Linked DNA regions of Homo sapiens: region 1 is linked to region 2. Evidence: fine-mapped expression QTL. A gene starts in region 2. The other region holds a variant in brackets. All regions are shown on one strand. Distances are from middle to middle.

What was found. PIP is the estimated chance that this variant, and not a neighbour inherited with it, causes the effect.
Region 1: its variant is the best candidate, but not a certain one, in a credible set for the expression of TOX4 in CD4 T cells (BLUEPRINT, PIP 0.90).

The regions. Positions count from the first base shown.
Region 1 is chr14:21,402,955-21,413,866 of GRCh38, reverse strand. It overlaps CHD8 (chromodomain helicase DNA binding protein 8), which reads left to right. Exons shown (of 38, transcript NM_001170629.2): 10 at 871-954; 11 at 3,879-4,016; 12 at 5,042-5,163; 13 at 5,312-5,555; 14 at 6,835-7,011; 15 at 8,003-8,146; 16 at 8,403-8,658; 17 at 10,204-10,414; 18 at 10,655-10,850. Among named protein-coding and RNA genes, the nearest start is that of SNORD8, 11 kb to the right of the region's middle. The variant A/G (reference allele first, on the strand shown) is at 4,369.
Region 2 is chr14:21,464,323-21,480,436 of GRCh38, reverse strand. TOX4 (TOX high mobility group box family member 4) reads right to left here and starts at 3,242. Exons shown (of 9, transcript NM_014828.4): 1 at 3,153-3,242; 2 at 2,873-2,941. The coding sequence starts at 3,158. RAB2B (RAB2B, member RAS oncogene family) reads left to right here and starts at 3,478. Exons shown (of 8, transcript NM_032846.4): 1 at 3,478-3,610; 2 at 3,838-3,909; 3 at 5,503-5,570; 4 at 11,685-11,767; 5 at 11,988-12,080. The coding sequence starts at 3,565. LOC124903283 (a long non-coding RNA gene) reads right to left here. Exons shown (of 2, transcript XR_007064064.1): 2 at 14,567-14,920. RefSeq lists enhancers at 3,292-3,361, 3,942-4,061.

The DNA of each region.
Region 1 (10,912 bases), 64 kb after region 2:
GAGCAAGATGAGTGAAGAAATATGCCTGTTATATTTGCGGCGTTCATCCTTGATAAGAGTAGTTTTGGTTGTATGTTGCAAGTAGAAGAAAAAGTGGAATGGATGGACAAGTGAAAGAGATGAAGGAATGGAAATAGCATGTGTTTAAACCCTTGAAAAAGTTTAGGTATGGGGCCGGGCGCAGTGGCTCATGCTTGTAATCCCAGCGCTTCAGGAGGCCAAGGCAGGCAGATCACTTGAAGTTAGGAGTTTGAGACTAGCATGGCCAACACGGTGAAACCCCGTCTCTACTAAAAATACAAAAATTAGCCGGTCATAGTGGCGGGCACCTGTAATCCCAGCTACTCGGGAGGCTGAAGCAGGAGAATCACTTGAACGTAGGAGGTGGAGGTTGCAGTGAGCCAAGATCGCTCTACTGCACTCCAGCCTGGATGACAGAGCAAGGCTCTACCTCAAAAAAAAAAAAAAAAAGGTTTAGGTATAAAGCAGAGTAGAAAAATAGTTGCGGGAGTTGTAGAATAAAAAGAGGTCTTATTTTAAAATGTGAAATGTGGAACATATACGTGTATTTATGGCAATGACTCGGTAGAGGGATTCCTAAGAATACAAGAAGCAATGAACAGCAGAGCATATATGGAGAGAAGGACCTCTGTTAGAAAGAGACACTCACTGGTAGCAGGTGAGAAGTCAGGTATAGACCCTGGTAAATTCATAGGATTTGCTGTTATGAAAAAGGAGAACACCCATCGGATAGCTTCTAATTTCTTTAAAAATTTTGAAGTAGGATTCTCTGCTAAAGGTGAGGTAGAGGAGTGGGTTTACTGGACAGTGATCTTTTGGTCTTATTGTTTGGTTTCCTAACTCATCTAGGATGAAGAGCCCTTTAATCCAGACTACGTAGAGGTGGATAGGATATTGGATGAGTCTCACAGTATTGACAAGGACAATGGGGAGGTGAGTTGTTGAGGCATGGAGTAACGTGAACATCCTCTTAGATTTCTGCTGGTGGGTTTGCCAATCCTTTATTTTTCGGGTATGGATGCAGAATCCCTTGGACTGAAAAGGTATTTCTAAATTTTTCTGTGGAATCCTTTGAAAGATAATGGGAGGTAAGAGTGTAGGGAGAGATGCTAAAAGGAAAGATTTCTGTAAAGTCAGACATGTAGAGGCTAAGTACTGAAAAGTCATTCATCTTGGTCTCATTTTTCCTCATATTTTAAATGGGAGACTCTTGACATACAGTTGGAGGTGGGGTGTTGGGAAGGGGAAAGGGATACTTCACAAATTCCTAAATTTGTGAATATAAAAATACTTCTACAGGCTCGCTCCTAGCTTTCTACAAATCATGTTCTTGAGAATGGGCTACTTCCTGAACTCACCATTAGTTAAATGTCTCTTCATTTGTCATTAAAACAGATCTGCTGGCCAGGCGCGGTGGCCCACACCTGTAATCCCAGCACTTTGGGAGGCTGAGGTGGGCAGATCACGAGGTTGGGAGTTTGAGACCAGCTTGGCCAACATAGTGAAACCCCGTCTCTACTAAAAATACAAAAATTAGCCAGGTGTGGTGGCACGTGCCTATAGTCCCAGCTACTCGGGAGGCTGAGGCAGGAGAATCGCTTGAACCCGGGAGGCAAAAGTTGTGGAGAGCCAAGATCATGCCATTGCACTCCATTCCTGGGCAACAGAGTGAGACTCCGTCTAAAAAAAACAAACAAACAAAAAAGCAGATCTACATTTGAATCTGTATTTTAATTAGTTTATTTTTCTCTTTTTTCTTTTTCTTTTTTTTTGGTTTTTTTTTGAGACCATCTTCACTCTGTCACCCAGGTTGGGGTGCAATGGTGTGATCTTGGCTCATTGCAACCTCCGCCTCCCAGATTCAAGTAATTCTCATGCCTCAGCCTCCTGAATAGCTGGGACTGCAAGCGTGTGCCATCATGCCCGGCTAGTTTTTAAATTTCTAGTACAGACAGGGTTTCACCATGTTAGCCAGGCTTAGTCTCGAACTCCTGACCTCAAGTGATCTCCCTGCCTCGGCCTCCCAAAGTGCTGGGATTACGGGCGTGAGCCGCCTACGCCTGGCACCTTTTTCATTTTCAAATGGTCATCTAGGTCTTAGCCACCAGTGAATTCAGCTTTCTTTTAAATTTACTTCTAATTTTTTTTTAGGCTATAAACCATCATTTTCTTAGAATTTGTCACTTTATATTTTTCCTTCCAGTAGCACTTTTTGGTTTAGCTTAGCAGGATCATAAAGAAAATTTCTATCACATCTGACACTTTATACAGTGACCAGTAGAGAACAGCAGAGCCTTTTTAAGATGTTAATGTTCAGTGGGTGAGCTGGGCTTTTTCATGACTTTTTCAAGTGACTTGATCCTCCCATACATCATTCTAACAGGACCTCTGAGTTAAATTCTTTCCTCTATAAAATTCCGAAGTTTATTCTACTTTATAAGTCTTCAGGTTCACTCAGAGCCTCAGAATCTTAGATATCCAGGACACGGTAGAATTCATTGTCTTTAAATCCTAACAAGCATGCTTCACATAACGTATTCTGCTTTTGAAGTTGGGGTGGTAGTATTGTGTGTTTGTTTGTGTGAGTTGAATGGAGAATGGGCCGGGTTTTAGGGCAGGTTGTTAGCTACTCTTAAATTCTTATCATTTTTCAGGATCTCAGCCTTTCCAGCCTTGACAGTCTTATGCTTTTAATCATACCTACCCTTCTAAAAGCAATTGGCCTTTAGTTAGGCCCCTTTGGAATGTCTTGCAAATGACGTGACAGATGATAATGTTTTCATACTCTAATACTATAATTTATGCTCCCAGTATTGGCTAATACTATTCTATATACCCATTTTCCCCACCTCTGCAAAATAAGTTTGTCATCCATTTTATATTACCTAATGGTGGAAATAAATAGATATTATGCTGGAAATATGTGACCTGGACAAATGGCTTTATATAGAGAGTGACCTGAGTTACTATGATAAAGAAAAAGGTAAAAGAGCAAGCAGCTGGATCAATTCCAGAGATTCGAGATCTGTGACTACCTTGAGGCACTTTCACATATTTTGTTGGCTATTTTAAGTTTTCTATGAATTGATAATTAGAGATTCTTGTTGATTACACTAGGCCCAATCTAATCCTTGCTTTATACTTCATAAGCCAAAAATGGAGATGCAGTAAGTGCAGTGATCATCTTGAATAGTGAAAATAGGAGCCATTTACCATTGGTCACTGCCCCTTCACTTTCAGTGGAATACCTACATAAACTAGTACTTACTGTAGTTGAACTTTTTAGCATTTTCTCTTCCTTCTTTACTCTTAGTACCTCTTTTTGGTGATAACCTCTTGTTAGCTCCTAGCTTCCTGGGGCTCACAAGGACATTTCTTTATCACCATGTAAGTGCTCTTGAGGTGCATCTGCAATGAGCTCTAGGGGCCCAGAAGCCAGTATAAGCTGATAGTCCTCATCCTAAAGGTAGCCTAGCTGCCACTGTGTCAAATTTGGCTCCAGGAGAATAGTATGGCACAGAAACATATCTTTTAATTTCAACATGGTATAGGAAAAGATTAGTCTTTTTTTTTTCATCTGTTTAGTTGACGAGCATGTTTTAGTGCTTAGTGTGATAGAAACTAGTGGGTAGAAATTTTCCTTTTAGAACAGATTCTGATAAATTGCTTTGAAGAATGATCAAAGCCATATAGTGCATCAGAAGGTGAACTTTTGGTCGATGTGTTTGGCCTGACTTTTTCAACGGCTTCTAGGTACTGATACTTTGTGATCTGATTTTACAATCAAATTTTTATTCTTTAACTGGAGCAGAGAACACAGAATCAGTTTCTTAAGGCTTTGGTTTCTTCTCTCCTAGCCCGTTATTTACTACCTGGTGAAATGGTGCTCTCTGCCCTATGAGGATAGCACATGGGAGCTAAAAGAAGATGTTGATGAGGGCAAGATTCGAGAATTTAAACGGATTCAGTCAAGGCACCCAGAACTCAAAAGGGTGGTAAGTACATTTGCATTAAAGTATAAAGGCCTACATAAGAAATGATTAAATTTTTTCCCCTATGAAATTTTTTGTTGTTTTAGCTTTTTATTATGGAAATTTCAAACATATAAAAATCGAAGAAATGGTATAATGTACCCATCACCCACGTAACAATTATCAGTACATATCCAGTCTTGTGTCATATATTTTCCTACCCATTAATTCCTGTTTCCCAGGTTATTTTAAATCAAATCCCAGATTCATTTATTTCATCTGTAAATATTACAGTGTTTTTGCCTAAAAGAAATAATACCATTATTACACCTAAAAAATTTAATCATTCTTTAATATCATCAAGTCATTGGTACCA[A/G]TCATTGCATACATTTCCCTGATTGTCTTCTAATTTTTGTTAAATCATTTAAATTTGGTTCTCAGTAAGGTCCATATATTGCTATCAGTTAATATGTCTCAAGTTTCTTTTAAGCTCCCCCTTAATCTCCTCCTCTCCCTCCGTTATAATTTTCTCATGAAGAAATCAGGTGATTTGTTTTGTAGGATTTTCCATAGGCTGAAGTTTGCTGATTACCCTTGGTACTTTTTTACATGTTCTCTGTCCCTTATGTTTCACATGAATGCTTAGGTTTAGAGCTACACTGTCCAATAAAACATTTTAGAGCTGTGCTGTCTAATACAGTAGCCACTAGCCGTGTTTTTTTGTTTGTTTTTTTATTTTTAATGTTGTAGAAAGCTCTATTAGACATCACTGTTCTACAGGCTTGATCAGATGAGAGAGGGAAGCCAGTAACTGCTTCATAGATGGTGGTGTGTCCTTCCATCAGGTTGTGTTTTGTGATGTTGTCAGCCATTTGTGATCATTATGGACCCATAAAGTAACGTTATGAACTCATAAATTTAAATATATTTGACATGTTTTAATCCAAACAATGTTGTTTTGAATTGATTTTAACTATTAGAACTTACCTAGTAAGTCTTACCTTTTGATAATGTCTCCACTCCATTTATTCAAACGTCTTGTTTTTTAGAATCGTCCGCAGGCAAGTGCCTGGAAGAAATTGGAGCTATCACATGAATATAAAAACAGAAACCAGCTACGGGAATATCAGTTGGAAGGGGTTAATTGGCTGCTCTTTAATTGGTATAACAGGTAAAGGAAAGAATGGGCCATAAGATGTAAGCTTAGTTCTGGGATTATTTTTATTTGTTTTCTATTGAAACAATTTCTTCCTACATACTCTATTTTTTTTAAAGATAGTATCTTTTAACATTTTTTTTTTCCCATGGTGAATCTGCAGGCAGAACTGCATCCTGGCTGATGAGATGGGATTGGGCAAAACTATTCAGTCCATTGCCTTCTTGCAGGAAGTATATAATGTGGGCATCCATGGTCCCTTCTTGGTCATTGCCCCACTGTCCACAATTACTAACTGGGAGCGAGAATTTAATACATGGACAGAAATGAACACTATTGTGTACCATGGCAGTCTGGCCAGCAGGCAGATGATTCAACAGTATGAAATGTACTGCAAAGATTCACGGGTGAGTTGCATGTCTTGGGAATACTATGAGTTAGAGAAAGTCGGCCAAGGTACCTGGTATTTTAAGGGCTATATATGAATAGAAGACTTTTATTGAAAGTCTTCAATATGCCTATGCAAAAATGCCTATGGTTTAAGGCATTTTTGTATAGCAGTGTGCAGGGCATTTTTTTGACTTTGCTATTTTTTTTACCTAGTAGACATTTGATCTGGTAGAAGTTCTGATTTTATTTATGAACATACACATTTTAAGTAGAATTTTGTCAGCATCAATGAATTTTAATCACAGTATTTTACAAAAATTAAATTCCTTTAGCCACTTAATCCATGCGGTGGTGAGCTTATTTCTTTTCCTCTTTTTAGTCTACGGAAATTTTCATCAAGATCAGTTTCTTTTTCTAAATGGTCGGGCGTGGTGGCTCATGCCTGTAATCCTAGCACTTTGGGAGGCCGAGGTGGGCTTATTACCTGAGGCCGGGAGTTCTAGACCAGCCTGGCCAACATGGTGAAACCCCATCTCTACTAAAGATATAAAAATTAGCCAGGTGTGGTGGTGGGCACCTGTAATCCCAGCTATTCAGGAGGCTGAGGCAGGAGAATCGCTTGAAACCAGGAGGCGAAGGCTGCAGTGAGCCGAGATCGTCACACTGCACTCCATCCTGGGTGACAGAGTGAGACTGTGTCTCAAAAAAAGAAAAAAAAAGGATCAGTTCCTTTTTCCATGTAAATTTGAAAACAAAATTGGAATTATCCATCGTGTATTAACATGAATTTTATTGTTTCTCTATTAGTTTTCTTTTTTTTATTTCTACCAAATCACATCTTTTCATCATATTTTGCAGCTTTTAATTTTGTTAAAATGATTTCATTCTTTTGTCAATTTTTAGACATCAGCCAATATTATGTTCTGTATTAGCTATTTTCATTTTTATTATCTTGTATGGTTCAGCATTGTCCAGCAGTTGTGGATTTCATTGTTAATCAACAAAAGATCTGGGGCAGAGATACATGAGCTAGGCATACAGCAGAGTAAAAAATGTCTAGCCTCTCATTCAGTGAGTCTGTCATTTTCCCAAGAAGCTGAATATGTTGAGGAAGCAATGTATCTTACATTCAGTGATATGGCACTATTTTTCAGGAAGATAAACAGCGGTGGAGGTGGGTGGTGGTGCAGTTTGTATTGCCTATTAAACATGCCTTAATATAGGCAAGTAATTCAGAAAAGCTCCTCATTTAGGTACATTTTTGGTTTTTTCTGACTTTACTGCCTTCATGCTTAGGGACGCCTCATCCCAGGCGCATACAAGTTTGACGCTCTGATCACCACTTTTGAGATGATTTTGTCAGATTGTCCTGAGCTTCGTGAAATTGAATGGCGTTGTGTTATCATTGATGAAGCCCATCGACTGAAAAACCGTAATTGCAAGCTGCTTGATAGTCTCAAGCACATGGACCTGGTGAGTTCCACACTGACTTGTGAGCAGAAACACCTGGAATAAACCGTAATTCCTTGCGGTATTAAAATAACCCTAGTTTAGCAGAGAAGAAAAGTCTGAATCGTGGTATTGAACAGTGGGGATGACCTATGGGAATGGTAACCTGAAAGTCGTGTAAAAGTCATACATTTTAGAATTGGGAAGTTTAGTGATAACCAGAAGAGGAGGTGGGAAACTATATTGGTTACCTATTATTACTGCATAACAAAATACTCCAAAACTTAATGTCCTACAACAACTATATTTTTCATGATCTTCTAGCTCAACCACTTAGGCTGAGTTCAGCTAGTTGGTTCTTATGATGATCTTGCCTGGAGTCAGTATTGCTGCAGCTGGCAGTTGATGCTGGTTTTTATCTGGAGCACCTGGGTTCCACATGGCCTCTCATCCTCCATAGGCCAGATTGGGCTGCTTTGTGTGGTAGTCTCAGGGCAGTATTCCAAGAGGGCAAAAGTAGAAACAGTAACCTTTGAGATAGGCTCTGAAACTCACACAGTGTCACTTTTGCTACATTCTTGTTCTTGCAAGTAATAAGGCAAGCCTAGGGGTGAACCTTGTTAGGAGGAACAGCAGCAAATTAATGACCATATTTAATCCAGCTCAGTTACATTCCATAGAGGACAGCAGATTTTAGGATATCTGTGGGGAGTTGAATATGGAGAGACATGTGTAATTGGAATAAACATAATCAGAATTACTGTTTTTTAATTTGCTTATAATATTTATGTTATTTCAATACATTAATGTCAGAGGGATTTCTTGAATGCTTTGTGTTTATCGAAAGAGGGGACAAATGGAAGAAAAATTAATGGACCAGATCACTGGTCCATTCTCATCATTTTATAGATAAAGAAATTAAAGGTTATATATGTTAAAGATTATATACTTGATAGGAAACCCCAGAAGTCCTTCATGTTTTTAAATTTTATTCTTTTGTTTCCTCCATTTCTAGGAACACAAGGTGCTACTCACAGGAACACCATTGCAAAATACTGTAGAAGAACTGTTTAGCTTGCTTCATTTCTTGGAACCGTCACAATTTCCCTCAGAATCAGAGTTTCTCAAGGACTTTGGGGATCTCAAGACAGAGGAACAGGTAGGAAATCTATCTGATGAGGTACTAACTCAGGACAAAGAAGGTGAAGTTTGTACAAGGCAGACATCTGTTGTCATGGGTATCTCAAGGGCCTTTCTGAACTCCTTATAACCTTGTGCCTACATCATTTGTGGCATCATCCAAAGTATACATTTCTTAGATAGTGGAAAACTCTAATTTTTCCATGTTTCTACATAATGTGAGAATGTTCGCCCTCATCTTATTGATTTATTTTTCTCTCTGTAATGGACCACAGGTTCAAAAGCTACAGGCCATTCTTAAGCCAATGATGCTGAGAAGACTCAAAGAGGATGTTGAAAAAAACTTGGCACCCAAACAGGAAACAATTATTGAAGTAGAGCTGACTAATATCCAGAAGAAATACTATCGGGCTATTTTGGAGAAGAATTTCTCCTTCCTTTCCAAAGGGGCAGGTCATACCAACATGCCTAATCTACTTAACACAATGATGGAGTTGCGCAAGTGCTGCAACCACCCATATCTCATCAATGGTGAGGGAATGCTTGGTATATACCTGAACTTCTGTAGTACCTGTGTTTACTTTCCGGATGATTCTCCTTGGGGACAATGGATGCATTGACTCAACCAACCTAATTTGGGGTGCGGACTGAGGAATGGGAGGGAAATGGTTCTCCTTTTAAAAAAGAGACTCTAAGCCTGGGCAACATGATGAAATCCCACCTCTACAAAAAATACAAAAATTAGCCAGGTGTGATGGCAGGCATCTGTGGTTCTAGCTACTTTGGAGACTGAGCTTGGAGGATTGCTTGAACCCAGAAGGCAGAGGTTGCAGTGAGCCGAGATCACACCACTGCACTCCAGCCTGGGTGACAGAGTGAGACCCTGTCTCCAAATAAAGTAAATAAAAACAATTCTTATTTGGAATGTTTTTCTGTAGTTCTTTCTACCCCTTTGATCCTACATAATCTCCAAGATTAAATAGGATTTGCTGTTTAGAATTGCATGAAGAAGAACTCAGATTAGCCACACAGTGGCATGTACCTGTAGTCCCAGCTACTTAGGAGGCTGAGGCAGGAAGATCGGTTGAGCCCATGAGTTTGAAGCTAGCCCTGTCTCAGAAAAAACACTCTTAGGTTACTCTGTTCCTTGGATAAATGTCCTCATCGACACTCCATTTTGCTGTTTCTGTCTCTTTTGGGTGCTGATAGTGTGTTCCATCTTAGTCCTTGTCCACATATTTACATCTTTTTTTAACCCAGTTATCATAGGCCTGCCTTACTTAGTGTATTTTGTATGACACATCTGAGGATGATTTAAGTTTTTTTTTTTTTTTTTTTTTTAAGATGGAGTTTCACTATTGTCGCCCAGGCTGGAGTACAGTGGTGCAATCTCGGCTCACTGCAACTCTGCCTCCCAGGTTCAAGCAATTCTCCTGCCTCAGCCTCCCAAGTAGCTGGGATTACAGGCGCCTGCTACCACACCCAGCTAATTTTTTGTATTTTTAGTAGAGACAGGGTTTCGCCACATGGGGCAGGCTGGTCTCGAACTTCTGACCTCAGGTGATCTGCCCGCTTCGGTCTCCCAAAGTGCTGGGATTACAGGCGTGAACCACTGAACCCGGCTGATTTTTTTTTTTTTTTAAGGTGGAGTCTCGCTCTGTCACCCAGGCTGGAGTGCAGTGGCGCAATCTCAGCTCACTGCAACCACCACCTCCCGAATTCAAGCGATTCTCCTGCCTCAGCCTCCTGAGTAGCTGGAACTACAGGCCTCCGCCACCACACCTGGCTAATTTTTGTATTGTTAGTAGAGACGGGGTTTCACCATGTTGGCCAGACTGGTCTCGAACTCCTGACCTCAAGTGATCCACCTGCCTCGGCCTCCCAAAGTGTTGGGATTACAGGCATGAGCCACCGTACCCAGCCGATTTAAGACTTTTTTGTGCTGAAATTCTGTGTGTGAGAAATGTTGGTCTTAAGTCAAATTACATTTTTTTCCTTTTGCTTTCTTAGTTAAATAGACTACAACCTTAATATGGTTCACTGGATCTCAACATAATTTGATTTTTCTTTTGGCAGGTGCTGAAGAAAAAATCCTAACAGAATTCCGTGAAGCTTGCCATATTATACCTCATGACTTTCACCTGCAGGCCATGGTTCGTTCAGCCGGCAAACTGGTTCTTATTGACAAGTTGCTTCCAAAGCTTAAAGCTGGTGGCCATAAAGTTCTGATCTTCTCTCAGATGGTGCGCTGCCTAGACATCCTAGAGGATTATTTAATCCAGAGGAGGTAAGAAAAGAGTCATCCTAGCCTGTGGTTACTCTGTCCTCATAAAGCAGCAAAAAGTAGGAGGGCCTGGATTTAATTAGAGTTCACCAATTGCAATAAGAGAAGTTTTTAAGATTCTCACTCTCAACTTGGGTTTTTGACCAGCTTTGATATGGGAGTACTGGTATTGATCCTAGCCTGCTGTTTTGGTCTCCACTTCTGCTTAGCCACTTACATTTTTTTTCTGCGATTCCCATACAGGTACTTATATGAACGTATTGATGGGCGAGTTAGAGGCAACCTTCGACAGGCTGCCATTGACCGCTTCAGCAAGCCTGACTCAGACCGCTTTGTCTTCTTACTGTGTACCCGGGCTGGTGGACTTGGTATTAATCTTACAGCTGCTGATACCTGCATCATCTTTGATTCAGACTGGAATCCACAAAATGACCTGCAGGTAAAGGAATTCATTGTCTTAGGGACTAACTACCTAACTTGGGAGATTTTTCAACAAGAATA
Region 2 (16,114 bases):
CGCTACCAAGGGAAAGGGAAGGTGTAGAAGTTGTAATGAGAAAATGGAGAACTGTTAACAATGACAGGAGCCTTAGGCAAAGGAAGCTACTGAAATTGAGCCTAAAACTTAGCTATCAGTTTCTTGGCAAAATAAAATAAGATTTCTTAAGTCACAAAAACAAAAACAAAGGACAGATTCAAACCTGGAAAGTTTCTTTCTTTTTTATTATAATATTACTTGTTAATACTTTAAATTTACTTTTCTTCACTATACACCATGATTCTTCATGGGAAGTTTCTTGATGTGAAAAGGAACCACTTCTGTCCTGGCATGGTGGCTCACACCTACAATACTAGTACTTTGGGAGGCCAAGGTGGGAGGATCGCTTGAGCCTAGGAATTTGAGACCAGCCTGGACAACATGGTGAGATCCTGTCTCTATTAAAAACAAAAGCAAAAGCAAAAAGGAACCACTTTTTTAAATGTGGCTACCTCTTGATTGTTCAACTTCATAAATGGGGTAGAGAATTAAGAACAGTGGGTAAACTTGAAAGCTACTTGTATTTAATTTTAAAATGCACTTTCTCATGAACGAGGCCAACGTAAAATTTATAACACTCTAAATAACAAAATTTAAACTGTGGAGACCTGATTGAGGAGAAATTGGGAATTTCATGCAGGTAAGTCCAATGTGAGATTTGCAACACTCAAATAATGAAATTTAAAAATGAAGATCTCACTTAGAAGAAAATGGCAACTAAGAGTGCAAAGCACCAAGCAGATTTTAGCTGTTTTTGTTTGTTTGTTTGAGATGGAGTCTCACTCGTTCACCTAGGCTGGAGTACAATGGCGCAATCTCGGCTCACTGCAACCTCTGCCTCCCAGGTTCAAGCGATTCTCCTGCCTCAGCCTCCTGAGTATCTGGGATTACAGGCGCGCACCACCACACCCGGCTAATTTTTGTATTTTTAGTAGAGATGGGGTTTCACATGTTGGTCAGGCTGGTCTCGAACTCCTGACCTCGTGATCCGCCCTCCTTGGCCTCCCAAAGTGCTGGGATTACAGGCATGAGCCACCGCACCCCGCCTCACCTGTTTTTTTAAAATTAATTATTATTATCTTTTATAGAGACAGAGTTTGATCACGTTGCCCAAGCTGGTCTAGAACTCTTGGGCTCATGCAATTCTCCTGCCTCAGCCTCCCAAACAGTTGGGATTACTGGCACGAGCTACTGTGCTGGGCCCAGATTTAGGTTTTATATCATTTCAAAGTTTGCTGCATACTAGATTCACACTTATCCTGCTTATGAGAATAATAAATAAAAGCAACAAAAAAGTTAAACTGGCACTGGGCACATTGGCTCATGCCTGTAATCCTAGCACTTTAGGAGGCTGAGGCGGGCAGATCACTTGAGGCCAGGAGTTAAAGAGCCTGGGTAACAGGGTGAAACCCCGTCTCTACAAAAATTCAAAAAAAAAAAAAAAATTAGCTGGGTGTGGTGGCGCACACCTGTATTCCCAGCTACTTGGGAGGTTGAGGCAGGAGAATCACTTGAGCCCAGGAGGTGGAGGCTGCAGTGAGCCAAGATCGTGCTACTGCACTCCAGCCTGGGCTACAGGGAGACTGTCTCAAAAAAAAAAAGAAAGAAAAAAAAAGTTAAACTAGCAACTGGCCCTTGTCAACCCCATTTTCATCCATGAAAACGTTAGGATTATAGGATAAGCCCATGCAACAGCCACTGACAATTCTTGGTAAAAAAAACTGATGCAAATGGTCCACACCACTTTTGAAAATAAATATAAAAGTCCTCAAAAAATGGCAGATGGTTCAAGACTTCAGTTTCTCAAAGACAGAAATTTTTGTCTGTTCCACCATTCTCTTTTGCCTCTCCCAAACAAGTGATACATATCTATATTATGACAATATTTCAACCAAACTTTTTTAACGAACACTTCAGGGTTTCATCATAACCTTTACTTCTACTTTAAAACAGCATAAGAAACTATAATTACAGCTGTTTGACAGCTGGGGAAACTGTGACATACAAAGATGAAGTAATGTGCCCAACGTCTGAGTCACTGGCAAATTGAAACACATGTCCTACTCAACTCTTTTATATTCTCTAGCAGCTATTTCCTTTCCTCCTGACATTAGCAAAACAAGCTGACACCATGTAGGTAAAGGTAACCACAAATTTTTTATCAAAGTAGGAAATTTAGGCCGGGCGCAATGGCTCAGGCCTGTAATCCCAGCACTCCGGGAGGCCGAGGTGGGTGGATCACCTGAGGTCAGGAGTTCGAAACCAGCCTGGCCAATATGGTGAAACTGCCATCTCTACTAAATATACAAAAATTAGCCGAGCGTGGTGGCGCACGCCTGTAATCCCAGCTACTCGGGAGGCTGAGGCAGGAGAATCGCTTGAACCCAGGAGACAGAGGTTGCAGTGAGCCGAGATCGCACCACTGCACTTCAACCTGGGCGATAAAGCGAGACTCTGTCTCAAAACAAAAGAAAACCAATAAGCTCCTCCCCTCAACCCCAATTTCTTCAGCTGCTGAAACATTTTCTTTCCACTGCGATCCCCTAAGATTACTGTAGCTATTTCTCCCCAGAGAAAGGAGACAATTCCACTCTGTCTTCTAATCCAGAATCCCTTTTCTCTTTAAACAGGTTATCTCTTTCCAATACCTTGCTTTCTGATGACAGCAACTTCCCAAGACTTCCCCAGATAGTCCCCACAGGCTCTAGAAGCAACCGCCACTTTTCTCTAAACACCAATTGCGGCCCTTGGTTCCCAGCCCCCGTCCCCGGAGTCCGTGCTCTCCTCCCCACTACCCTACCCCACCGCTGCCTCAGGCCCTACCCCCGCGGCGTCGGCAGCTCTGGCTCACCTCGGCCCCTGACAGGAAGGGGTGCGAAGGCCCTGTGATCGTCAGGTAATTGTCATTTCCTCCGGGAAACTGGAAACCAAAAGAAAGTCGCGGGGATAAGTTAGGGGGAGCAGGGAGTCAGCTTGGAGCGATGGCTTTTGACCCTGACATTCTGACAACACTCCCCAAACCCCGCTCTCTCTCCTCTCCCGTCAGTCGCCTCTCCGCCCGGCTTCCCGTCCCTGCTTCAACCCGGTCGGCCGCGTTCTCTCGCCAGCCTTCTTAGCTATCAGGTTCCTACCTCCATCTTCACACAACCGCTCCCACCGTCTCAGACCCTCATCGCTCCCACCGCCCCCACTGGACTCGGAACTGCCGTCACTTCCGCAAGGACGTGTGTTCTCTCTGCTGATTGGAAGGAGCGCCGTGGGGCTGCAGAGAGTCAGGCGCTGGGCTATCGCCCCCTGGAGTTTGGAGGGATAAGGGCATGTAGAAGTGCTAGAAGCGTCCCTGGAGGTGGCGTAGGGTACTCCCGACCTAAGGATGATTCCGGGGAGTGCAATAGAGACGTGATCTGGGCTAGAGGAGCCGGAGGGGCGGGGGAGCGGGGGGAAGGGGGAGAAGAAGAAGATCGGTAGATTGAGTGGCTAGAGAGGTCGGAGGTAAGTGGCTATAGAAGTCGGGCGGACCCGGAACCCAGAGGACGCGACACCATGACTTATGCTTATCTCTTCAAGTATATCATCATCGGAGACACAGGTAACCCTCAGGTGGTTCGCCTTCAAGGCTCGGGCGGGCATTCGAAGCTCCCAAATTGGGTGGCGGGGGCGGGGCTCACTTTGTGGGCTGGGCGATTCGAGACGGGCGGGGCGGTTCGGGGCGGCCGGGGGCGGGGCTCGGGAGCCCCCCTTCTCTGGTCCGGGAAGTCCATACTCTGGAAGGTGTTCCAGGGCTGCGTGATTCCGGGAGTGTGCTTTCTCTTTCAGGTGTGGGGAAGTCATGTCTCCTCCTGCAGTTTACAGATAAGCGGTTCCAGCCTGTCCACGACCTCACAATAGGTAAGTGCATCTACTTGTTCCAGAACAGATGATAAAACCTGACTAGCTAAATTGCTAAAGTGGAAAGTTAGCAGCCTTCAGTGTTCGAAGTAAAAAGTTACCCCTCACTACTTTAAACTAGTCCAAACTTATGTTAATGAAGTGACCAATGAAACGTTGATATGTGGGGAGTAGTGTAAGGGAGAGTATATAATTGAAAGGTAACTTTTTAGAGTGTGAGGTATAGACTCGTCATATAATTTTTTTTCAAATACAATTTGTATGTTTATGGAAAATCCCACGAAAGCATAACTGCTTATTTATGAACTCATCTGTGCTTTGAGGTAAATTAATACCAGCCTTACTTTTAAAAAGTAAACACCAATACATGGACATTTTTTATATTGGTGAAGAAGCAAATTGAGGAGTCATCCCTGCCTTAGAATTAATAGGCAAATAAAACTAAAAACTTTCCTTTTAAATGAAAGAGTGTGTTAACAGTTCCTCAAACGCACTGGCGATCCTGGAAAATATTAACCTTTCCCACACGTTTGTGATAAGGCATGGCCTGAAGAGGCTTTTAACTACCCCCTCTTCGTTATCTCCGTAACCCCAGTCCAAATAAACAACATATATGAAACTAGCTTTCTTGCCATGCAAATGCAGTTTCTAAATAAACCCCTACATCCCCATTCTTACCATATTGCTACTTCCAAGTCCCACCTGTATGGAAACCTGAAGCTACCACTGTTCCTAACGGATTTATTTAGAGTCAAATAATTGATGGGGTTAGAAAAGGATTTGGCAGTATCAACTAAAAGGTATTTTAAAGGGAATATTGAGCGAATTCTCACTTTGCGATAGGGGCTAATGATACAATGCTTAACAAGGCAACAATGCTTAATTGTGCCTCTGGCAATTATTGGAAATGTAAAATGTATTGTTAAAAAAATTAGGTGGGCGTTGTGGCGTGTGCCTGTAAGGTACTTACTTGGGAGGCTGAGGCAGGAGAATCACTTGAACTCAGGAGGTGGAGGCTGCAGTGAGCTGAGATCGCACCACTGCACTCCAGCCTGGGTGACGGAGCGAGACTCCATCTCAAAAAAAAAAAAAAAAAAGTATTGTTTCTGAGAACCTATTTCTTAGGCTCTTTTCTTAAAGAAAAACATCTGGAATTGCAAAAAAATAAATATTGTTTTAAGTAGAGACTAAAGAGTGACTGAGAAAGTGTCAGGAAATATTTCCAAAATTTTTAGTTTTTTGGAAAAGTTACAAAACTAAATGTTACCTAACCAAATTTAAGCATTAACCTAACATTGCTAAAAAAGTATTCACCTTTTTAAATTTGACTTCTTAATTGGTTTTATTTTCCCATATCTGCTTTTTGGTTACATTCCTGAGGTCATTGAGCACAATTTTTTAATTCTAGAAGGGAAATGAAGAACCTTAAGAAACACAAAATTAATTGGAGCAAATAGGCAGCAATAATGGAATTAGTGGCATTGAGTTCAGACAAAGGATGGTTATAACACATTGAGGAAAGGCAGGAACCTCCCACTCCACGTGGCTGCTGTTCGTGAGAATCACATTCTTTCTCTCGGTCTTTACCGACAGGTGTGGAGTTTGGAGCTCGTATGGTCAACATTGATGGAAAACAAATCAAACTGCAAATCTGGGATACGGTGAGAGTACAAAATAATTTAGTCTCTGACCAATATCCAAGTATAACAAGAAAAGCTGATGCAAAGGAAAGGGGCGATGAGGGTGGAACTAATGGTGGGGATAAAGTAGGGGAAAGGTGAAATCAAAGAGAGAAGTTTTTGATTCTGTTACAGTTACAAATTCTGGATGCTGTATCTTTGTGTTGTAAACGATCCAAGTAATAGTTTATTCTAGTAAAAATAAAATCAAACAATATAAATTTATAGAATAGAAAGTAAATGTCCCCTTTTGATACATAAACTCTTTCTCCCTTCCCATCTTGGTTGGTACTCTAGCAGGGAAATCATTACTGATGATTCCACGTGTATGCTTTCAGACTTTTTCTATGCATTTAGATACATACATGTAAACACATAGAAATATATGGTAGTAGTTTTGTTTTTATTAGTGTTTACATGTATAGAATCGTGACAGAGTAGACCTAGTTGTGTGACTTAGATTGTATATTAAACAATCTCTATGTTGTGGGGACCTTTCCATATCAATACATATAGATCTGTCTCATTCCTTTTAACCACTGCGTAGTCATGGAATGTCAGTAGCATGATTTATGTAACCATCATCCTACTGATAGAAATTTGGGTTGTTTTCCAATTTTTAAGTATTGCAGAATTTCACTGAGCATTCTTTTTTTTGAGACAGAGATTCACTCTTGTCACCCAGGCTGGAATGCAATGGCGTAATCTTGGCTCACCGCGACCTCCACCGCCTGGGTTCAAGCAATTCTCCAGCCTCAGCCTCCTGAGTAGCCGGGATTACAGGCACCCACCACCACACGTGGCTAATGTTTTTTGTATTTTTTGTATTTTTTTTCTGAGACGGAGTCTTACTCTGTTGCCCAGGCTGGAGTGCAGTGGCGTGATCTCAGCTCACTGCAAGCTCCGCCTCCCGGGTTCGTGCCATTCTCCTGTCTCAGCCTCCCGAATAGCTGGGACTACAGGCGCCTGACACCACGCCTGGCTAATTTTTTGTATTTTTAGTAGAGAGGGGGTTTCACCGTGTTAGCCAGCATGGTCTCGATCTCCTGACCTCGTGATCCGCCCGCCTCAGCCTCCCAAAGTGCCGGGATTACAGGTGTGAGCCACCACTCCCGGACGTTTTTTGTATTTTTAATAGAGATGGGGTTTTGCCATGTTGGCCAGGCCGGTGTTGAACTGACCTCAGGTGATCCACCCACCTAGGCCTCTCAAAATGCTGGGATTACAGGCGTGAGCCACAGTGCCCAGCCTGAACATCCTTATTTACAAAGTTTTTATGCCAATGTTTGAGAATTTTTGTGGAATATCTGCCCAGAAATGGAAACTCTGTCAAAAGCTTGTACATATTTTCAAATTTGATACATGTAGTAATGCCAAAATTTAGCTTGGCTTAGTGTAGTTTTGCCCTATCCAGATAAATTGCTTTCATGTGCATTATCTCATTTGATTTGTACATTTTTCCCCCTAAGTAAAATAATACCTTAGTCTCCATTCTAGTTAAAGGGAGCTAGTAAATAGCTAGTAAATAATATTTGGCTAAAATCTCTTACTTTTTTTGCTTACTTCTTACTATGTGATTCTGTTTCTTCTCTGAACTGAGAGCTAAAGCCATTATATCTGCAAACAGTGTACACATTATTTTTCCTTTTTTCTTTTCCTCCCTTTCCTCTCCTTCCCTCCCCAATGCTCCTCACCACACGCAAGTGTATGTCTTAAAAGTAGTTGAAGCTTAAGTTCATCTGTCTATCCATCCATCTATCCGTCTATCTCTACAGATCTATCCCCTGATCCCCTGCACTGGGGAATTTTTGTATTTTTTGTAGAGACGGGGGTTTCAACATGTTTCCCAGGCTGGTCTCGAATTCCTGGACTCAAGTGATCCGCCCTCCTCAGCCTCCCAAAGTGTTGGGATTACAGGCCTGAGCCTTGGCACCTGGCCCAGATGAATGTTTTGATGCTGGGGAAAAAAACCCAATAAGTGCCATTTAATGGAATGGTCATGGCAATGGCCTTTTTTTTTTTTTTTTAAGCACTCATATGGGACATGGTTGGATCATGAAAGTAAGAAAGTTGAGAGCTTGATTCTGCTGAGAATGCATACATAGAAAAACAAACAAAAAAGGAAAGTTGAGAGCCACGACTTTGGACAGAATCCTTAAGAACTACATGGTCATCCAACTGGCCTAGTTCTTTTCTGTTCCCTCTTAAAATTGTCTTGAGATTAATATTTGCTAAATCATAAAAAGGAACCAGTTTCAGAACACTGTGGTTTTCTATATATTTTGAAAATTTTAAAAGATTCATACGTATAATAATGTGTCCATCTAGTCTGTCGCCTTTTGGGTAAGTCTGGTCATTTCTCCGTTGTCAGCCCTGATCTCCTGCCCATTGTTTACCCATCTTAGCTTCCCACTTTATTGACCCATTCTCTCACTTACTTCCAAACCCATCCTACATGAAAATGTTTAGGGATTACTGTGATAGGTATTTTAAAGAGATCAGGTTGTCCAAAGGTTTTTGTTGTCTTTGTTCTGGCATTTATGTGGATTTAGAGAAGCATATTTTAAAAAATCGTGTGTGTGTGTGTATACACGTATTCCTAAATAATCATGCTAATGAATAGGTATTTTACTGTAATATAAAATACTGATCAAATAATATCAAATTGGTTTGTATTTTACTTTGGAATGCAATTAAAATTTTTTTTTCCTTAATAAACCGTTCATTGGAAGGAATGCATTTTGATTCTTAGGAAAATGGTGTATCTGACTTTCTAGGAGTTGATACTTCAAACTGTATATCTTAATATAGTATGATGCTTCCACTTGGGAGAGATTAGAAAGCTATTAATTATCTTATCAAACCTTCATCTAGGCCGGGTGTCGTGGCTCATGCCTGTAATTCCAGCACTTTGGGAGGCTGAGGCAGGCGGATCACCTGAGGTCAGGAGTTTGAGACTAGCCTGGCCAACATGGTGAAACCCCATCTCTACTAAAAATAAAAAAATTAGCCAGGTGTGGTGGCGGGCGCCTGTAATGCCAGCTACTGGGGAGGCTGAGGCAGGAGAATCACTTGAACCTGGGAGGCGGAGGTTGCAGTGAGCCAAGATCATGCCACTGCACTCCAGCCTGGGCAACAGAGCGAGACTCCCTCTCAAAAAAAAAAAAGGAAAAAAAAACCTTCATCTTAGTTCGTTGCTGCTGCATCTTTTCTTTTCTTTTTTTTTTTTTTTTGACAGGGTCTTGCTCTGTCACCCAAGCTGGAGTGCAGTGGCACCATCTCCACTCATTGCACCCTCAACCTCCCCGGCTCAACTAGTCCTCCCACCTCAGCCCCTCAAGTAGCTGGGACTACAGATGTGTGCCATCACACCTGGCTAATTTTTTGTATTTTTTTTAGAGGCGTGGTTTCACCATGTTGCCCAGGCTGGTCTCAAACTCCTGAGCTCAAATGATCTGCCCACCTTGGCCTCCCAAAGTGCTGGGATTATAGGCATGACCCACGGTGCCCAGCCTGCTGCTTCAGATTTTTTTACTGGGGATGGCCAAGGATACCTGAGACTGATATAGACAAGACCAAATTGAACTGCTCACTCTTTCTAGCTTACTGGTTCACAAACTTTGGCTCATGAACTGGAATGAGATGAAGTAGAGTGATTTTTTTTTTTTTTTTAATTTAGACAGAGTCTCACTCTGTTGCCCAGGCTGGAGTGCAATAGCGCCATCTTGGCTTACTGCAGCCTCTGCCTCCCGGGCTCAAGCAGTTCTCCTGCCTTAGCCTCCTGAGTAGCTGGGATTACAGGCGTGCGCCACCACGCCCACCTATTTTTTTTTTTTTTTTTTTTTTTTTTTTTTTGTATTTTTAGCAGAGATGGGGTTTCATCATGTTGGTCAGGCTGGTCTCAAACTCCTGACCTCGTGATCTGCCCGCCTTGGCCTCCCAAAGTGCTGGGATTACAGGCATGAGCCACTGCGCCTGGTGAGTGATTTGATTTTAAAAGGTTTTCTCATGACCCACTGATAGCATTTTCAGCTGCTAAAGATAAATGCTGCCATGTGATTGAACCATCATGTGGGCCTCCCTCAAACTTTCCCTTTTAGTTCTTGGTAGGCTGTGAGGGAAGTAGAGGGAGGCTTACAACCATAGCAGAAGAGGAGAAAAAGTAAGTGCTAAAAGGAAAACAAGACCCAAATAACGTAAGACATTAGGGAGTAAATATAAAACTGTAAGTATTTTTTTAATCTTAAAATATTATTAGTATTATGACAGGGGACTTCAGAATTAGTTTTTATTTTCCGATTCTGATTCTCTAACAGCTATGCAACTCACTCACATGTTTCTATGATTCTTATAGAAAGAGATTCTTCTGTTGTTGGAAAATTAACCTTAGAGTTAGTATACTGGAATTCTCTTCTCACCTACAAACCCCAGTTTAGGTTATATGATATAGTGGCTAAGAGGACAAGTTTTTGTCCTAGGAAGTACTAAGATCCTAAGTTTAAATTATGGCTCTAGCACTTAATAAGCTTTATGATTTGGGGCCGTTTATTAAACTTGTGTGAGCCTCATTTTCCCCATTTTTAAAAGGAAATAATAAGCCAGGCACGGTGGCTCATGCCTGTAATCCCAGCACTTTGGGAGGCCGAGGCGGGTGGGTCATGAGGTCAGGAGTTCAAGACCAGCCTAGCCAACATAGTGAAAACCCATCTCTACCAAAAATACAAAAAAATTAGCCAGGCATGGTGGTGGGCGCCTGTAATCCCAGCTAATTGGGAGGCTGAAGCAAGGAGAATTGCTTGAACCTGGGAGGCGGAGGTTGCAGTGAGCCAAGATTGCGCCACTGCACTCCAGCCCGGGCAACAGAGCGAGACTCCCTCTCAAAAAAAAAAAGAAAAAAAAAAAGGGAATAATAATATCGGCCCCAGGGTTGCTAAGAGAAGTAAATGAAATAATATATGTAATTGTCTCTTAAAGTTCGTAGCACATTTTATATGCCAAAAAGTAGTTTATAGTACTATTGCAGTGTTATAATTAGTGTTACCACTGTTACTGGTATTATACTATGAGAAAGCCATTTATTTTCCCACATCCTTAATCATGATTCTCCCATTTGTAACCTATAAATTATAGTCTTACCTCCTGTTATGTAGGGATGTAAGGATAAATTATTTCAAGAATGTGAAAACTTTCTTAATAGGATAGATTCAATGTACAGGGTATTCATATTATTTAAAAAATGTTTTTGTTTTCCCTAAAGGAAAAAAAAAGAACTAGTCCATCAAGAAAGCAAAAGTACCCAGTATTATGGGGGCATTAATAAATTACTCAGTTTTAAATAGAACTTAATATCTTTGTCCAACTGGAAATGAGATTAGAGTGTGAACATTTGGATTTTTCTAGGAAAACTCTATGCTGGGCCCTGGGCTTCTTTCTCTGTTTGTTATTCCTATTTCCCATGACAGAAGCCCAGCAAGGGACATCTAGGTAGTCTTGCATTATCAGTGGAACACTAAAGGTCAGTTAGAAGATAATCAGTTGAAGTGCTTTTAATCTAATTTTTATATTGATTCATTGGAATGAAATTTCTATTAGACCAGGTTTTGGCATTCTAAGATAACTTTCCTTTTTACAGATAAAGAAATGGGAACAGAAAGATTAATATGGTGTGTTCAATATCATATTTGGGATTGAAAAAAATGACATACACTCCGTTTCCAGTCCTATTTCCAGTTGTTCTTTTATGAGGATATTGGGAAATGTATGCAAATGTCTTCATCGTCTTTATCGTGCTGACTGGGGTGCCACAGGTATTTAGTGACTGGGATCTAGGATGCTAAACATCCACTAATCTGATGGACAGTCTCTCAGGAAGAGTAAGTGACTGCCCAAAATATCAATGCACTCCCATAGAAAAATATTGATTTCCCACTTGGGTTTCTTCTCGGGCAGGCATGTTTTCTTTCCCTAATTCTCTTTTCGTAATAGAAATTCTTTTTTTAGTTAAGTCCTTTGTATTAGGGTGGCATGTGATCAAGTCGGTTCTGTGGAAATAACCTGGTTTTGTTGGGATTTTTTGTTGCCATGTTGGTGGGAAAGGCTGGGCAAGAATCCTTCCGTTCTATCACCCGTTCCTACTACAGGGGAGCAGCTGGAGCACTGCTGGTGTACGACATTACAAGGTGAGCCAGATCTGGTGCATGGGAGGGAGATTCTTCCCTAAATCCTCTAAAGCTTTTTTTTTTTTTCTATCTACTGATTCTGTTAAGGATGTTAACTAGGAATGGCCTCTCTAATATTTTTCTTTACACGTATGGCTTCCCCTCTTTTCGTATACGCTTGGAGTTGTTTTGGCCTTTTGAAATGTGTCTCTGACCCACATTCTAAATTTTTCTGCTGTAGGCGTGAAACCTTCAACCACCTGACCTCATGGTTAGAGGATGCCCGGCAGCACTCTAGTTCCAACATGGTTATCATGCTCATTGGGAATAAGAGGTAAAATTGTATCCATGTGAATAATAGTTAACAGGAGTCATCTAGGTACTCTATGCACATTGATCCCCAAACTTTCTCAGTTTATAGTGGTCTTAGTGTTTCAGTAAAAAAAAAAAATTTTGTTGTGATAAAATATATATGACACAAAATTTACCATTTTAACTATTTTTAAGCATACAGTCCTGTAGCATTAAGAATATCCATTGTTCCACAGCCATCACCAACATCCATCTCCAGAACTTTTTCATCTTCTCAAACTCTATACACATTCAACACTAACTCTCCATCTTCCCTCCCCCATCCCCCTCATCCCTCAGCCCCTGACAGCCATCATTCTACTTTATGAATTTGACTACTACTGGTACCTCATACAAGTAGACTCATGTAATATTTGTGCTTTTGTGACTGGCTTATTTCACTTAGCATAATGTCTTCGAGGTTTATCCATATTGTAGCATGTGTCAGAATTTCCTTCCTTTTTAAAGATGAGTAATATTCATTGTATGCATATACCACAATATTTTGTTTATCCATCTGTCCATGGACACTTGGGTTGCTGCCATCCTTTGACTATTGTGAATAATGCTGCTATGAACATGGATCTGTTCAAGTCCCAGCTCTGAATTCTTTTGGGTATATGCCCAGAAGTGGGATTGCTGGATCATATGGTAATTCTTTTATTTTTTGAAGAACCACCATACCATTTTCCATAGCAGCTGTCTCATTTTACATTCTTTCCAGCAATGTACAAGGATTCCAGTTTCTCTACATCCTTAACAACACTGGTTATTATCAGTAAATTTTTTTTGACACCCATAGGCCAAAAGAAATACCTAATAGTTTTGTTAAATAGTTATACCCAAACAACATGAGTATTTTTTATAACCGCTTAGTAACTGTTTGAAAATAAAAAGGCCAGGCGCAGTGGCGTATGCCTGTAATCCCAGCTCTGGAAGGATTGCTTGAGTCCATAAGTTCAAGACCAGCCTGGGCAACATAGTGAGACCTTGTTTATACAAAAAAATTTTTAAATGAGGTGGGAGGATCACTTGGGCCTGTGAGGTCGAGGCTGCAATGAAGCTGTAATTGTACCACTGCACTCCTGCCTCAGCAACAGGAGTGAGACCCTATATAAAAAAAAGAAAAAATATGCCAGGCGTGGTGGCTCAAGCCCGTAATCCTAGCACTTTGGGAGGCCGAGGTGGGTAGATTAGAAAGTCAGGAGTTCAAGACCAGCCTGGCCAATATGGTGAAACCCCGTCTGTACTGAAAAAATACAAAAAGTAGCCAGGCGTGGTGGCACGCACCTCTAGTCCCAGCTATTTGGGAGCTTGAGGCAGGAGAATTGCTTGAACTCGGGAGGCGGAGGTTGCAGTGAGCTGAGATAGTGCCACTGCACTCCAGCCAGGGCGACAGAGTGAGACTTTGTCTCAAAAAAAAAAAAATTATTTCATTCTTAAATAGCAACAGTTACTTACTAAAGACCTCTATGTGTCTGTTGGGCACTGCATAGCTTCTCAAACCTTGGAATCACGATTGCACACTGCTACTCTCATTTCCCATTTCATATTGATTTTTGTGTAGTGCTTGCTTTTTTATAACAGCAACTGCCAGAAACAGCTTCTCAGAGATATGAAGATATTGAACGAATTTTATCATGGTCTGATATTGACATTGCAACTGTCTTAAGCTTGTAATTCATGTAGTAAGTATCCTTGTGTTGAGTGTTACTGTGTTTTTCTCAAAAGTTTGAGGTATCCCATGGCACCCTTGTGAGTTTGTAGTAGTGCCCAGAGTGTACTATTTGAGAACTGTGGCCACAGGCTAATTGGTTTTTTGTTTGTTTGTTTGTTTTCATTTGTTTGTTATGAGATGGAGTTTCACTCTTGTCACCCAGGCTAGAGCACAATGGCATGATCTCGTCTTACTGCAACCTCCACCTCCTGGGTTCAAGCGATTCTCCTGCCTCAGTCTCCCGAGTAGCTGGGATTACAGGCATGTGCCACCAAGCCCAGTTAATTTTTTTGTATTTTTAGTATAGACGGGGTTTCTCCATGTTGATCAGGCTGGTCTTGAACTCCTGACCTCAGGCGATCCGCCTGCCTCGGCCTCCCAAAGTGCTGGGATTACAGGCGTGAGCCACCACACCCATCCTGCTAATTATTTTTAGTGTATCAGTCAATGTATTGAAAACGACTGTGCCAGATTCTGAGTTTGCAAGGTGGAAAAAAGTCGTCCCCCTGCTCTTGTGCAGCTTACAGTCTAGTGGGGGCATAGATGTTAAATATAAAATTATTTGTATCAAATTGTAAATTGTGATAAATGCAATGGAGGAAAAAGGGTGCTACGAAAGAATAACAGGGTACCTACTTTTGATTAGGAGTGATATTAAGCTGGGATCTGAAGGATGGGCAAGAGCCTGCTGGGCAAAGATTTTTTTAAAAGGGTATTACTTGGGGGGAACAAACTATACAAACACCTTGAACTTGGAAGAAGCTTGACACGTTTATTGAAAGAAACCTAGTGTGATTGGACTAAATCAAGAGGGAATAGTGCAAGATGAGGTTGGAAAAGTAGGTAGGGACCAGATTTTATAGCACCTTAGAGGCCTGAGTAAGGGTTTTGGATTTTATTCTAAATACATGGAAATTGAAGCTTGGGAGATGGGGGATTAAAAATAATAATAAATAAATACACCTGAAGCATTTTAAAGTTTTAAGTAGAGAAGTGGCTTGATCAGATTTTAAAAGATCACTCTGGAGGAGAACAAGGACTGAAGTAGTATCCCAGTTGCAATAGTCCACATGAGAAAGAATGGTAGCTTGGTCTAGGAAGTGACCCTGGAAAGAGAAAGAAAGGATAATTTTAAGGTACATATTGGAAGTACTTCACTTTGGAATGGATTAGATATTTGGAGTAGGGAGCAAAGGGTATCAATAATAACACTTTGGTTTTTGGCTTATGCCATTTACTGAGATACAGAAGCCTGCAGCAAACACAGGCTAGGGGAAAAGAAGTTCCATTTTGATGTGTTAAGTTTGAAGTCCGTTTTATGTATCAGTGTGGAAATGAAGAATTCACAAATGTACAAATCTGGTGCTTAGTCAAGCATCTGGGCTAGAGGTACAAATTTGGGAGGGTTGACATTTAGATCTTCCCTGGTCTTCACACAGCTGATGGTATAATAAATTAAAATATTGTAGATTTGTTGTTCTTTAATGGTCTTACACTTTTTTTCCAAGGAGTTGGAAAACTGGAAACCTCCCAAATGAAAATTTTCAAATTGAAAAATACGAATCACAAACAGCCCAACCTTGCCTTATTCTTCAGTTTGTTTTTTTGGTTTTGTTTTTTTTTTGCGACAAGGTCTCGTGCTGTTGCCCAGGCTGGAGTACAGTAACGTGCTCAGCTCACGGCAACCTGTTTCCAGGGCTCAAGAGATCCTCTCACCTCAGCCTCTCACGTAGCTGGGACTACAGGCATGTGTCACCACGCTCTGCTGATTTTTAAATTTTTGTAGAGACAGGGTCTCACTGTATTGTGCAGGCTGTTCTTAAACTCCTGGGCTCAAGTAATCCTCCTGCCTCAGCCTCCCACAGTGCTGGGATTATAGGCATGAGCCACCACGCCCAGCTCTGCAGCCTTTTATCCTGTTTTTCATAAGGTCTTTTGTTGCCATTTTTATTCCCTTTTTCAGTCCTTAGCTCTTATCTTTTTTTTCACCTAATTTTATCCATATCACTGTCTCTGAATTCCCTGGTGGCAAGCTGCTTTTATATGCACTAGTAACGAAACCAGTGAGACTTAAGACAACTGTGTTTTCCTTATTCCTGGCTCATTCTCTTCTTGTGGCTTGATTCCAGTAAAAAAGGAAGATGCTCATCACTGCTGGATGGGACATCTTATGACTTTTCTGCTTTCTAGTAACTAGAGTTTTCCTTTTTTTCTTCCCCGCCCAAGAGACAGTCTTGCTCTGTCGCTGAGGCTGGAGTGCAATGGCGCGATCTCAGTTTACTGCAACTTCCGCCTCCCAT